Linked DNA regions of Homo sapiens. Each later gene encodes a partner of the first gene's protein in a complex. Each region holds a gene or a part of one and is shown in the gene's direction. Other genes may lie near its edges.

Evidence for each region.
Region 2: the proteins of FLT3LG (region 1) and FLT3 are in contact, whole or in part, in a crystal structure (PDB 7QDP), measured with the Homo sapiens proteins. Residues at the interface, in NP_001191431.1 of Homo sapiens: His34, Ser35, Pro36, Ile37, Ser38, Ser39, Asp40, Lys44, Lys87, Glu99, Asn102, Thr103, Glu104, His106, Phe107; in NP_004110.2 of Homo sapiens: Asp180, His279, Gly280, Phe281, Gly282, Met300, Ser301, Thr302, Tyr303, Asn306, Arg307, Met309, Arg311, Ser333.

What each region holds. Positions count from the first base shown.
Region 1 is NC_000019.10:49,469,911-49,477,304, forward strand, and holds the start of FLT3LG (fms-related tyrosine kinase 3 ligand isoform 1 precursor), read left to right. Parts: upstream 1-4,304; 5' UTR 4,305-4,371; intron 4,372-4,452; exon of another isoform or gene 4,453-4,541; intron 4,542-4,675; exon of another isoform or gene 4,676-4,692; 5' UTR 4,693-4,729; coding exon 4,730-4,762; intron 4,763-5,763; exon of another isoform or gene 5,764-5,780; coding exon 5,781-5,891; intron 5,892-6,206; exon of another isoform or gene 6,207-6,234; coding exon 6,235-6,288; intron 6,289-6,512; coding exon 6,513-6,656; intron 6,657-7,394. Other genes in the region: ALDH16A1 (aldehyde dehydrogenase family 16 member A1), read left to right, coding at 396-557. UniProt on the Homo sapiens protein: Stimulates the proliferation of early hematopoietic cells by activating FLT3. Synergizes well with a number of other colony stimulating factors and interleukins. Required for the development of B cells, and dendritic cells (DCs).
Region 2 is NC_000013.11:28,097,546-28,105,066, reverse strand, and holds the start of FLT3 (receptor-type tyrosine-protein kinase FLT3 precursor), read left to right. Parts: upstream 1-4,490; 5' UTR 4,491-4,556; coding exon 4,557-4,599; intron 4,600-7,521. UniProt on the Homo sapiens protein: Tyrosine-protein kinase that acts as a cell-surface receptor for the cytokine FLT3LG and regulates differentiation, proliferation and survival of hematopoietic progenitor cells and of dendritic cells.

The sequences.
Region 1 (7,394 bases):
TCGCCATATTGTCCAGGCTGGTCTCAAACTCCTGAACTCAAGCGATCCTCCCGCCTCAGCCACCCCAAGTGCTGGGATTACAGGAGCGAGTCACCGCGCCCCACCGTCCACTCTCTTAAACCTCCTGTTGGTAACAGATGTGAACTTGTTGACAAGAGCCTTGGGGCCCATTCCTTTCAACATGGGCTGTTAAGGGAGAGGAAATTCCCTAACCACTGGGTCCAGTGCTTTTCCCTACCATCTGGAAGTTCTGCTTGGGAGGAGCTGGGCATTGTAGCTGCAGAGCCTGGGTCCAGCCTGAAGCCCCTCGTCAGTAACAGTCTTCATCGCGGAGGAAGCAGGTGCTCAGCAACAAGCCTGCAGAAGTGCTTACCCCCGTCTCTTCCTCCCCTCAGGGTTCCCAGTTTGTCGAGTGGGCCTCGGCAGGAAACCTCAAACCGGTGTGGGCGAGCAGGGGCTGCCCGCGGGCCTGGGACCAGGAGGCCGAGGGGGCAGGCCCAGAGCTGGGGCTGCGAGTGGCGCGGACCAAGGCCCTGTGGCTGCCTATGGGGGACTGATGCCTGAGCGCCACCTACTGCATTTTGGACACCTCACACCAAGGGGAGATGCACCCCACAGACACCTGGGACTTTCCCCTTCTGGTTCCTGTGTCTCCCAATAAACTCTCTGACCAACCCTAGCTGTGCTTCTGCGAGAAGAAAGGGTGTAGCAACTTCTGGCAGATATGAGGCTTTTTTCTTTTTTTTTTTTTTTTTTGAGACAACGTCTGGCTCTGTCACCCAGGCTGGAGCGCAGTGGCACAATCTCGGCCCACTGCAGCCTCGACCTCTGGGGCTCAAGGGATCCTCATGCCTCAGCCTCATATGTAGCTGGGGCCACAGACATGCACCACCACACCTGGCTCGAGGCCATTTTAGTTCTGAGGTTGAGCAGCTCAGGAGCCGGCTCCAGCACGGTGCTGTGTTTGTGAAACAGAGAAAGGGGACCCCCGAGGACCCCAGACAGGGCCTTAGGACTCTCATATCTTCTTGTCTTCTCCATCTGGTGGCTCTTGCTCTCTGGTTTTCTCTACCTTTTCATGGCCCCAGAATCCATATGCAGTAAAGGAACTCTCTGGAATAAAATTAAAGTCCTCCTATATGACTTTTGTCAATTTCCATGATGTAAATGCTCCCACCGTGCCGGATTTCAAGGTACAGGTGATTAAACAACTGCCTGCGAGATCCTGAATTGTTAACAGGTCAGCTCCCATGAGCCAATACGAGCCGCTTCAGCACACCACTGCCTTAGGATTCTGGTTGTGGGTGGGTTTTTTTGGTTTGTTTTTTGTTTTTTCGAGACAGAGTCTCTCTGTCGGCCAGGCTGGAGTGCAGCGGGGTGATCTCGGCTCACTGCAACCTCCGCCTCCCAGGTTCGAGCGATTCTCCTGCCTCGGCCTCCAGAGTAGCTAGAATTACAGGCTCGCGCCACCACACCCAGATAATTTTTTGTATTTTTAGTACAGACGGGGTTTCACCATCTTGGCCTGGCTGGTTTCAAACTCCTGACCTCAAGCGGTCCGCCTGTCTTGGTCTCCCCAAAGTGCTAAGATTACAGACTTAAGCCACTGCGCACGACTGTTGATTTTTAAATAAAGGATCTTGCTCTGTTTTTTAGGCTGTAATACAGTGGCGCAGTCACAGCTTACTGAACCCACCCTCGACCTGGGCTCAATCCTCCCACCTCGGCCGGGCGTGGTGGCTCACGCCTATAATCCCAGCACTTTGGGAGGCCGAGGCAGGTGGATCATGAGGTCAGGAGATCAAGACCATCCTGGCTAACACGGTGAAACCCCGTCTCTACTAAAAATACAAAAAAATTAGCTGGGCATGGTGGCGGGCGCCTGTAGTCCCAGCTACTTGGGAGGCTGAGGCAGAAGAATGGCGTGAACCCGGGAGGTGGAGCTTGCAGTGAGCCGAGATCGAGCCACTGCACTCCAGCCTGGGCGAAAGAGTGAGACTCCGTCTCAAAAAAAAAAAAAAAAAATCCTCCCACCTCAGCCTCCTGAGCAGCTGGGACCACAGGCACGCACCACCATGCCTGGCTAATTTTTTTTTTTTTAATAGGCAGAGTCTACCTACGTTGCTCAGGCTGGTCTTGAACTCCTGGCCTCAAGCGATCCTCTCGCCTCAGCCTTTCAAAGTGTGGGACTGCAGGCATCAGCCACCACACCTGAAGTAGAATTCTTTTTGATGTAAGAAACCCACTCTTACTAGTTTAGGATAAAAGGGAGTTTTCAGAGGCCAGGCTCGGTGACTCAGGCCTGTAATCCCAACACTTTGGGAGGCCGAAGTAGGCGGATCACCTGAGGTCAGGAGTTTGAGAGCAGCCTGGCCAACACAGTGAAACCCTGTCTGTACTAAAAATACAAAAATTAGCTGGGTGTGGTGGCGGGCACCTGTAATCCCAATTACTCAGGAGGCTGAGGCAGAAGAATCACTCGAACCCAGGAGGCAGAGGTTGCAGTGAGCTGAGAGCACACACTTCACTCTAGTCTGGGCAACAGAGCAAGGCTCCATCTCAAAGAAAAAAAAAATGAGAGTTTTCCGGACTAGGTGTGGCAGTTCACACCTGTAATCCCAGCACTTTGGGAGGCCGAGGTGGGTGGATCACTTGTCAGAAGTTTGAGACCAGCCTGGGCACCATGGTGAAATCCCGTCTCTACTAAAATTATAAAAATTAGCCAGGCGTGGTGGCGGCACCTGAAATCCCAGCTATCTGGGAGGCAGGAGAATTGCTTGAACCTGGGAGGCAGAGGGGGAGCTTGCAGTGAGCCAAGATCGTGCCACTGCACTCCAGCCTGGGCAACACAGCGAGACTCGGTCTCAAAAAAAAAAGAGAGAGAGAGAGGAGTCTTCTGGAAGGCTACAGAGATTCCCTAGAGGCAATAGGGCGATAGGGCAGGACACACATTGAGGGGCCCCAGGACTTGGTCAGGAAGGAGCTAGAGCAGGTCCTTTGTCCATGGGCCACATGAGCTATTGGGGCTTGTATCTCTGCCTCTCTGCTTCATTTAAATCTTTCTAGCCAGATGGAAGGTCTGACCATTGGGTGCGACAAGGCAGCTAACCCAGGCTGAACAGGAAGTGAGGCAGGCAGAGGGATCAGGGAAGGGAAATGGATGATGAAGGCCAGGACGGGCGAGGCTTTGCTGCAGTAACACATAACCCCCGAATCTGCGTGGGCCACAACCACAACATTAGTTTGTTGCTTACACTCCCTGTGCTCATCCGGGGCTGGCAGGATCCCTGTGCTCCTCCGAGTGGCACAGGAAACTTGGCTGATAGAGGCGCTCTCTCCATGCATCCTCCACCATCCACTCCCCGGTCCCTTAGACTTCCATTCAGAAGTGACACCTGTCACCTCCACCCTCATGTGACTGGCCAAAGTGAGTGTGGCCATGTCCGAGTTCCCCAGGATGGGACCTCGAATCCTCCTGCTGGGGGGGTGGGGGCAGCAGATGTTTCAGGACAGTCTGCCACGGATCAGATGGGTGAGCAAGAGATTCAGGATGGGCGTGATGGGTCACACCTGTAATCCCAGCATTTTGGGAGGCCGAGGCAGGCTGATCACCTGAGGTCAGGAGTTCGAGATCAGCCTGGCCAACATAGTGAAACCTCGTCTCTACTAAAAATACAAAAATTAGCCGGGCATGGTGGCACGCACCTGCAATTCCAGCTACTTGGGAGCCTGAGGCACAAGAATTGCTTAAGCCCAGGAGGCGGAGGTTGCCGTGAGCCGAGACTGTGCCACTGCACTCCAGCCTGGGCAACAGAGTGAGACCCCATCTAAAAAAAAAAAATGCTTCAGAGATTCAGAGATCCACAGATGTGGAAGAGAGCTTCTATTTTGTCTCATGTACCACCTCACCCCTCAGTTTGGAGTTGGAGAAGCCGAGGCTTAGAGAGGTCAAGGGGCTGGCCAAGCTCCCACAGTGATAAAGCTAGTGCTAGGGCGACACCTGCCAGGCCCAATGTGACAAGATGCATCCTGAGTCCTGTGTGCCAAGCCTTGGCGGGGCAAAGTTGGGGCCCGGAGGACGGTAAGACACAGCAACTGCGAGTTCCCAGAGACAGATCCGGGTTCCAGCCCCAGCTCACCATGCACTGGGCGTGCCACCCAGGGAGTCAGCCCCACTGCAGCCCCCGCTGCGGGGCGTCCGGAGAACGCGCCATCTGCGGCGTGAGCGGCCGCCTCTCACCACCAGGGGGCGCGCTCCGCCTGGGCCCAGATTCCACCCCTTGACTGTCTCCCCCCAAAAATTTCCTTTCACTTTCGGTCTCTGGCTGTCACCCGGCTTGGCCCCTTCCACACCCAACTGGGGCAAGCCTGGTGCGTGAGGAGACTTGGACTCTAGGTCCCCAAGGGGCGGAGCCAGGGTCCCCACTCCTGGGGCAGGGGGAGCAGAGGGTGGGGGGCTGGGTTCCCGGGTCCCTAACCTGGGGAGGGTTCTGGGGACCAGACGTCGAGGTTCTTAGAAGTGGAGATGAAGAGTTTTCACCGTAACTGGGGCAGACGCAGGAAGCCTGGGGGAGGAAGGGGCGGAAACTCAGCCACATCAATGGGACGCGGGAGGGGCGGGGAGGCAAAGGGGCGGGCAGGGCAGGGGCTGGGGCATGAGGGTCCGAGACTTGTTCTTCTGTCCCTTCCAAGACCCGGCGACAGGAGGCATGAGGGGCCCCCGGCCGAAATGACAGTGCTGGCGCCAGCCTGGAGCCCAACAGTGCGTAAACCCCAGGGACAAGATCAGGGGAGAGGGGAGGCACAATGTCAGGATGGGGCAGAGATGAGGGGAGATGGACGGGAGAACAGATGGACAGATGACGAGGAAATAGGAGGGGAGATGGACAGATGTGAGGGGAGATGGATAGGAGAGGAGACGGACAGAGGAGGGGGAGATGGACAGAGGATGGGGAGATGGACAGAGGAGGGGGAGATAGAGGAGAGGGAGATAGAGAGGAGTGGGAGATGGACAGGAGCGGGGAGATGGACAGAGGAGGGGGAGATGGACAGAGGAGAGGGCAGATGAACAGAGGAGAGGGAGATAAAGAGGAGGGAGGTGGACAGGAGGAGGGAGATGGACAGAGAAGGGGGAGATGGACAGAGGTGGGGGAGATGGACAGGAGGGAAGATGGAGAGGAGGGGGTATGGACAGAGGAGAGGGGAGATGGACAGGAGGGGGAGATGGACAGAGGAGAGGGAGATGAAGAGGAGGGGGAGGTGGACAGGAGGAGGGAGACGGACAGAGGAGAGGAAGAGAGACAGAGGAGGGGGGAGATGGACAGAGGAGGGGGAGATGGACAGAAAAGGGGGGAGATGGACAGAGGAGAGGGAAGGTGGACAGAGCCAAGAACAAATGAAGAGGACGTGGACCAAGATCAAGAGAGAAGCAGGCAACAGTGGTGTAGAAGGCAGAGGGAGGGACAGAGCTGGAGGAACCCGGGCGAGGAAACCAGACGTGAAGATGAGGTGGTTGGAGAGAGACCAGCAGAGTGGGGGAGATGGGGAGAGAGAGGGGTGGGGCAGAGGGGGATGCAAACTGGACAGCATTGGACCAGAGGCAGAGAGAAACCGGGAAAGACAGGCAGAGATGGGGCCATGTCTCCAGAAAGTGTGGAAGAGGCAGAAGGACACCCAGGGAAGGAGGAGCGGGGAAGACAGAACAGTACAGGTGGGAAGCCCGGAGGAGGGGGCTGTGTGTGGAACAGCAGAGGGCTCCCCCAGCACCCGCTCCCCTGCAGACCTATCTCCTCCTGCTGCTGCTGCTGAGCTCGGGACTCAGTGGGACCCAGGACTGCTCCTTCCAACACAGCCCCATCTCCTCCGACTTCGCTGTCAAAATCCGTGAGCTGGTGAGCGGCGCTGCCCCGGACCCCCTCATGTGATCCCCCTTCCCCCCACTTTTTTTTTTAAGTAGAGATGGGGTCTCTCTCCCTGTGTTTCCCAGGGTGGTCTTGAACTCCTGGGCTCAAGCGATCCTCCCACCTTGGCCTCCCAAAGTGCTGGAATTACAGGCGTGAGCCACTGTGCTTAGGGGTGTCATCCCTTTTTAAGGGCAAGGTTCTGTGGCTTCTTCTGGGCTCCCCCTCTCTTGGTCTTGTCCCTCTCTCTCTGGATCTCTGCTGCCACCTCTGGGTCCCCACAGTTCTGTTTCTCGCTGTTTTCAGCCAGGCCTGATCCTGTTTTCTCCCGCAGTCTGACTACCTGCTTCAAGATTACCCAGTCACCGTGGCCTCCAACCTGCAGGACGTAAGTCATGTTGGGAGGGACCTGGGATGGAGGTGGGGACCACAGACTCAAGATGCTCCACCGAGGCGAGTGGATAACCAGGCCCTCCCCTCCCCAAACCCAGGAATCAGAGTCCTCAGCCCCTCCTCCCTCAGACCCAGGAGCCCCGGCCCAGCCCCTCCTCCCTCAGACCCAGCAGCCCCGTGCCCAGCTCCTCCCTCAGACCCGTGGGTTCTCCCCTCTAGGAGGAGCTCTGCGGGGGCCTCTGGCGGCTGGTCCTGGCACAGCGCTGGATGGAGCGGCTCAAGACTGTCGCTGGGTCCAAGATGCAAGGCTTGCTGGAGCGCGTGAACACGGAGATACACTTTGTCACCAAATGTGCCTTTCAGGTCAGCCCTCAACTTAGGGGACAAGTGAGGGGAGGGAGATGCCTTCCTACGAATTAGAAGTAAAGCTCCACTAGGCCTTATTGGCGATTTGGACCATAGCCACCCAACGAAGGTAGAGCGAGAAGCGCCACCCTGCAGAGCCCTGTTCCTACAGAACAACACGTCCCCAGGCACCGGTGATGGGGAGCAGTCTGGTCCCATTCTGGGGCCCCGGTTTCCTAGGCCATGATGAAGGGTGCCACTGAGGGGTTCTTCCCCCAAAAAAAAACAGGGAGAGAAGGGGTCTCTAAACTGAGGAGGCCGGGCGTGGTGGCTCACTCCTGTAATCCTAGCACTTTGGGAGGCTGAGGTGGGCGGATCACTTGAGGTCAGGAGTTTGAGACCAGCCTGGCCAACATGATGAAATCCCGGCTGTACTAAAAATACAAAAATTAGCCGGGCATGGTGGCTCAGGAGGCTGAGGCACAGGAATCGCTTGAACCCGGGAGCCAGAGGCTGCAGTGAGCCGAGATCATGCCACTGCACTCCAGCCTGGGAGACAGAGTGAAACTGTCTCAAAAACAAAACAAACAAACAAAAACCTCTCTCTGAGGGCTGGGTGCAGTGGCTCACACCTGTAATCCCAGCACTTTCGGAGGCCAAGGTGGGAGGATTATTTGAGCCCAGGAGTTCAAGACCAGCCCGGGTAACACAGTGAAACCTCATCTCTGCACAAAAATAAAAATAAATTAGCCAGGC
Region 2 (7,521 bases), on another chromosome or scaffold:
CCATACCAGACGTAACCACAATCCTGACTTTTGTGGTAATTATTCCTTTACTTTCCTTATACCCCTATGAATGTATTCCTAAGGAGAATATTGTTTGCTTCCGCCTTTATGTCTATTATTCCATGACTTGCTTTTCCCCCTCAACATTATGTTTTTGAGATTCATTCATGGTGTGTCAGGTAACTGTAGCTCATTCATTTACACTGTTATTTAATATATAGGTATTTTATTATGACTGTACTGCAATTTATCCTTTTGTTGGTGGGCATTTAGATTGTTCCCAATTTTTTGATATTATAAACAATAATGCTATGAACATTCTTATACTTGTCTCTTGGCACATATGTGTTTCTTTGAGGTTTATATCTGGGGGTGAAACTGCTGGCTGGAGGATATGTTCAACTTTAGTAAGATATGCCAAATTATTTTTCAAAGTGCTCACACCCATTGGGATGTCCACCAACAGTGTGTGGGTGTTCTCCATTGCTCTGAATTCTTGTCAACACTTTGTATTGTCAGATTTTGCCAATTGGTGAGTTCAAAGCCCCTATTAATAAAAGATGTGTAAAATTATACTATAAAGTTGATATCTCAACTGAACTCACATGAACCCTATTCAAATATTCCTTTTGTTTGTCCCTGATTTTCAGGAAAACATAAGGCTTTGTAAGTTAAAAATGACATGAAAGTATTTCACCTGTGAGCTGCTACGAAACTATGTCACAATTTTTGGAGAGAGAGAGGAAAGGGAGAGGAGATATTTGTGTGACTTAAGGGGTGGAAACATGGTATCAAGATGCTGGTAAGATAGATGACCACTTACTCATGGCTAAGCATCATGGTGCTAAGAATCTAGATAAAATACATCCTTTCGTAGAGTTAGCACTAGACACTCCATTCAACCCAGAAACAAACTTACTCTTCTCTTTTCCGATTTCCCGTTTCAGCTCATTTCTTCTAGTTGCTTTTGACCCTTTAAGAGTTTCTTTATTACAGAATTCCTATCATGAACTCTGACACCAAAATTTCATACTTGGGCATGCATACCTGGGCGTGTAATCCAGGACTCTAGACAATTTCAGGCTACTTTCCTTAAGTGTTGCTGTGAGGAAGAAATTAGTTCTCATATTAGATATGACTCTTGGCACATCACAGAAAAACATGGGCATTACTTCACCTTCTGTTAGCCTATACCTCATACTCCAAAATATTTCAGTCTATAAGATTTGCTCCTTCTAGAATTATTTTTTCCACCAATTTCCACGGAAAATCAAGTGTTCCTAGAAACCATTCCTGGCTGGCCGCGGTGACTCACACCTGTAATCCCAGCACTTTGGGAGTCCAAGGAGGGTGGATCACGAGGTCAGGAGTTTGAGACCAGCCTGGCCAAGATGGTGAAACCCTTCTCTACTAAAAATACAAAATTAGCTGGGCGCAGTGGCGGGTGCCTGTAATCCCAGCTACTCAGGTGGCTGAGGCTGGAGAATCGCTTGAACCCGGGAGGCGGAGGTTGTAGTGAGCCTAGATCGTGCCACTGCACTCTAGCCTGGGCGACAGAGCAAGACTCTGTCTCAAAAAAAGAAACCATTCCTAACTTCTCCTCTCTCACCAACCCCCTTTTTCATGAAGATCTCTGCCTTGTGTCCAAGATTCTTGGACAAAGCAGCAGTATCTTTATGATTTTGTATCCTGAATACTGCTGCACTCAAGCTGATGTTCTGCAAATTTGTAATAATCAGTTTCATTTTTTTTTTAGTTTTTCATTTTATTTATTTATTTTTTTGAGACGGAATCTCCCTCTGTCGCCCAGGCTGGAGTGTAGTGGCGCGATCTTGGCTCACTGCAACCTCCGCTCCCCAAGTTTAAGCAATTCTCTGCCTCAGCCTCCTGAGTAGCTGGGATTACAGGCGTATGCCACCACGCCTGGCTAATTTTTTGTATTTTTAGTAGAGACAGGTTTCACCATCTTTGCCAGGCTGGTCTTGAACTCCTGACCTCGTGATCCACCTGCCTTAGCTTCCCAAAGTGCTGGGATTACAGGCATGAGCCACTACGCCCGGCGAAGACCAAGTCTTGCTCTGTTGCCCAGGCTGGAGTGCAGTGGCATGATCTCAGTTCACTGCAACATCTGCTTCCTGGGTTCAAGCAATTCCCCTGCCTCAGCCTCCCAAGTAGCTACGACTACAGTGCCACCATGCCCAGCTAATTTTTGTATTTTTGTTAGAGATGGGGTTTCACCATGTTGGTCAGGCTGGTCTCCAACTCCTGACCTCAAATGATCCACCCGCTTTGGCCTCCCAAAGCGCTGGGATTGCAGGCATGAGCCACAGCGCCCAGCCAATCAGTTTCCTTTAAGACAGTAATTGAGCTTTAAATAGAAGGTAGTGTGTTAGGTCTTGGCCATTGGAAGCTCGCTTTTCTCCCCATAACCAGCCTGTTTCATTGCTTTATCTCCTCATGTTTCACTTATTTCAGGCCATCTTCCTTCACTTCTGTTTCTGACCTAAGGTAGACACAACACTCTTTAAAAAAATTTTTAAACCCCCAGCAGCTACACAAAAACTTAAAAAATTTAAAATTGAGGTAAAATACACATACATAAAATTTACCATCTTAACTTTTTGTTTTTGTTTTTGTTTTTGAGACAGAGTCTCACTCTGTCACCCAGGCTGGAGTGCAGTGGTGTGATCTCAGCTCACTGCAGCCTCTGCCTCCCGGGTTCCAGTGATTCTCCTGCCTCAACCTCCCAGGTAGCTGGGATTACAGGCATGCGCCACTACGCCTGGCTAATTGTTGCATTTTTGTAGAGATGGGGTTTCACCATGTTGGCTAGGCTGGTCTCGAACTGCTGACCTCAGGTGATCTGCCCACCTCGGCCTCCCAAAGTGCTAGGATTACAGGCATGAGCCACCGCACCCAGCCTTAGCCATTTTTAAGTGTACAGTTTAGTAGCGTTAAGTACATTCACATTGTTGTGCAACCAGTCTCCAGAACTCTGCTCATCTTGCAAAACTGAAACTCTGTATCCATTAAACACTGGCTCCCCATTTCCCCCTGCCCCCAGCCCATGGTAACCACCATTTAACTTTCTGTCTTTATGAATTTGTAATGGGATACAGTATTGTATTTTTTGGGACTAGCTTATTTCACTTAGCATAATGTCAAGATTCATCCATATTTTAGCTGTATCAGAATTTCCCTCCTCTTTAAAGCTGAAAAATACTCAGTCGTATGTATATACTGCATTTTTGTTTATCATTCATCTGTTGTGGACATGGGTTACTTCTGCCTTTTGACTACTGTGAATAATGCTGCTTTCAACACGGGTGTACAGACATCTCTTCAAGACCCTGCTTTCAATTCTTTTGGCTACATGGCCAGAAATGGAATTGTTGGACCGTATTTTTTTTAATTTTTTGAGAAACCTCTATAGTGTTTTCCATAGTGGCTGCACCATGGTAGACACTTCTAAAGTTTCTGCCATACCCTAGGGGAAAGAATTATTGTACTGTAGACAACATCTAAGGAAAAGAACTGTATGGCCAAGAGTAAACAGTCAATTTTCATGCTTTATTAGAAAATAATTAAAATAATTAAGAGCGTGGAATTCCTAGAATTGGGAGAGACATTATGAACCATTTGGTCCATCCCTTTCCTTTACGATGAGTAAACAGAGGTTTGTGGAGGTCAAACGGCTAGTTAAGTAAGGGAAGAACCAGAACTGGCATCCAGAGCTTTCCAATCCTCAACTTATTGCAAAGAAAATAATAATAATTTTCAACTCGAAAAATTATGCGATGAAGAACAAGAACTATTGAGCGGATGATTCGCAACATCCTCTGGGATGTATTTTCTGTGTGTTTTGTTTTGAAGGCTGTTTGTTAACCTCCCTAATTGCCTTGGTTGACATTGAAACCCTGCCTGTTTTTCTTGATCCCGCCGCTGACTGGGTCCTGAGCATCCTAGGAGATGGAGGCAGAGACAAAGGAAATCAGTCCACAATTAAGAATGGAATGGTTCTTAATGGAATGCTCGCCTGTGCGCTGGCGGGAGTTGCCAGCGTGCCGAGCGGATTCAGCGCCTTTCTCAGGGCCTCAAAGATCCCAGCGCACTAGGAGGGTGGTTTGTGGCTCCCTGCAGTCCCCACGCCCCGGATCCAAACGACAGAGTTCGGGGACTCACAGGGGCAGCAAGGCGGCAGAGCCGCGGAGCCAGTGCAACTTCTCCGGCGGGACCGCGCCCAATCTTCCCCGCCGCAGTCGGGGAGCCCCGGGGGCCGCCGAGCACAGGCTGCGGACCGCGGCGGGCACGTGGGCTCGGCTGCAGCGCTGCGCCAGGCACCGGCTGCTCGGCTCTGCCCAACCTCTCCGCTCCCGCCTCGGTCCCTGCCTCTGGGGAGAGGGTTCCTCCCCCCTTCCACTTTGCACCAGTCCGAGGGAATTTGCGGTCGGTGACGCGCATCCTTAAGAGAGCCACCTGCAGCGCGAGGCGCGCCGCTCCAGGCGGCATCGCAGGGCTGGGCCGGCGCGGCCTGGGGACCCCGGGCTCCGGAGGCCATGCCGGCGTTGGCGCGCGACGGCGGCCAGCTGCCGCTGCTCGGTAAGGCCCCGCTCGCTCGCTCGCAGCCCCTCGCGGTCCCTCAGCCCCCACCCCGCAGTGTGGACCCGGGCGCGCGCCTCCTCCGGCCCAGCCGCCTCGCTCCTCCCCGCGCTCGCTCCTTCCATTGCCTCCCGCGCCCCTCCCCTCTTTCGCGCCCTCCGGACTCGCCCACTACTTGCCTGCGGCCCCGGCGTTTCCCACCCCGCGTCCTCTTCCCTCTTCTCCGAAGTCTCTCCTCTGGCTCGGGCCGCGGTCCCGAGTGGCGGCCCGGACTTCGCAGACGGCCTCGCCGAGGCGCTGCGCCGGGTCTGGGGCAGCTCGGCCCGCGCGCTCGGGTGCTGGGCCGTCCGTGGGAGTCTGCGGCCGCGAACTCGGCGCCAGGTGGCCAAGGACCTCTCCTGGCCCGGCCCTTGGATACTGTAGACACCTGGGTGTCGTCTTTAACTCTTCTTTTGAGGTTTTGATTTATGGAGGGAACTCTGATGGGAAAATGCGTCCGCGTTCTCCCCTAGAGCGAGTCATCCTCAATAACGATACCCCCCAGCCCCGCCGAATTTTGGTTGGATCAACGAATAGTTTACCTAGGAAATATTATGCAAACAGATTTACATATTAAAATACTAGCTGTCCCTTTCTTCTAGTCTCTTCTTATCCTGGCATAAACCCCAAAGGGGTTTTCAAGGACTCCGAGGACTGTCCCCAAAGAATCTGCTGGGTAGCATAGTTGTTATTGAAAAAAAAAATCTTCCCATCGGTTCGCGTCAGCTTTCTATTTGGAAAGATGAGAGGACTGAATCGAATTTGGGTTGAAGGCGACAGAGTTCTGGGTGCCCGGCAGCTCCGGTCCCTGTCCTAGGTCTGCAACCTTGGGACTGACACTCACCTCCCCCGGCCTCCGCGTCCTCATCTGTGCAGTGAGGGAGTCCGTCCGAGTCCCCTTCAGCTCTGAAATGCTAGGACTTGAAGTCTCTGTGGTAAATAGAGAAAATGCTTGCAATATAGAAGTGCAGGAATTATATCCAATAGCTTTTGTTACAAATAATTCTGAAATATAAAAAGTAAAAAATGGAAATCGGGGGAAAAGAGTTGAAAAACAAAGACATTTTAGTTCTTAAATAGTTATCTTTACTAGTTAGTAAATCTGTAATTTCAAATGTGTAGTACAATATGTTTTCCAGATTCCGTTAATACAAAATGTTAGCTTTCTATTATGTATGATATTAAGTAGTAAGTGCATTTTTCAGAAGCATAATGGGCTTTCTAAAGGTATAAGCATCAATACTTGCAACGATATTTAAGCTGCATGGAATTCTTTTCTATTTAGGAAAGAATTCAGAAATTTCTATGTCTCTCTCTCCAGATATTTCTAAATGAAGTATAATTGGCACACAGTAAATATGCACACATCTTAAGAGTACAATTTCATTAGTTTTCACATATGTACGTGCCCAAATAACCACGATCAGACTGAGATATAGAGCAATTCTAGCTCCACCCTCTCTGTCAGTACCCCCTCCCCAGGTAGCCACTATTCTGACTTCTGATGCCATGGATTGCTTTTGCCTATGTTTGAACTTCATGTAAACCAAACCATCATCGTGTGCTCTTTTATGTCCACCTTCTTTTACTCAACATTATAATAATAAGATTCAACCTTGTTCTCTGTAGCAGTGTTTTTTTTTTTAATTGCTGGTACCATTCCGTGGTATGAATAGATCTTATAATTTATTTTATCCATTATGTTCACGAAGCACATGGAAGTTGTTCCAATTTTGTGTAATTATGCATAGCACTGCTGTGAACATTGTTTTATATATGGTGGACATAAACACCAGTATAAAGGATTATGCCCACAAGTAGAATTCCTGGATCATAGGGAAGGGATATGTTCAGGTTTGGTAGATACCGTCAAACGGTTTTCCACAGTGGTTACACCAATTTCCACTCCCACTAGCAGTGTATGGCAGTTCCAGTTCCTCACATCTTTGCCAATACTTTGTATTATGGATTTTCTTGAATAAAGAAGGATAAAGTGAGAAGCTTAAACATGAGAACTTTAAAATGGTTAATAGCCTTAAATTCTTTGAATTAGAACATGGGATCCCAATTTCCCTTATATTGTAAACACTACTTTTTTTTTTTTTTTTTTTTTTGAGACGGAGTCTTGCTCTGTCACCCAGGCTGGAGTGTAGTGGCGCGATCTCAGCTCACTGCAACCTCCGCCTCCCAGGTTCAAGCGATTCTCCTGCCTCAGCCTCCTGAGTAGCTGGGATTACAGGTGCGTGCCACCGCACCCAGCTAATTTTTGTATTTTTAGTAGAGACGAGGTTTCACCATGTTGGCCAGGCTGGTCTCGAACTCCTGACCTTAGGCGATCCACCCACCTCAGCCTCCCAAAGCGCTGGGATTACAGGTATGAGCCACCACACCCGGCCATGCCCAGACTTCTATTCATCATTTATGAATAATGATGAAGCTTTCTAAGTGGCATTTGAAGGAGAGGAACATGTTCCCAATGGGCTTTTCTGCATTATCTGCTGATACTGGACAGAGAGAAGTATTTCAATATTTTAAGAGCTATGATACTACCTTTTTCATTAGTGTTAAAAAAAATTCGTATTCAAAGCCTTGAACTGCACATTTGAGTTGCCATTCTTTGCTCTTGTTGCTTATCTTAGTTTATTTGCCTTCTTGGAAACTCCTAGCCCAAGGGGGAATGATTCAGGAGAAAGTGGAGGGAAGGGACACTCAGCAAAGCTTGGTTTGGATTGGATGTGAGCCCAGACCTGCCGACCTGACATTAATGTCCCCTCTGACTCTGAAACTCTAGTTCTAATTTTTGCCATTATATAGGTGTAGATTGGATATTCATTTCTTTTTAGGTACTTCACGTCTATCTATAGTAAATTATCCTCTTAGGTT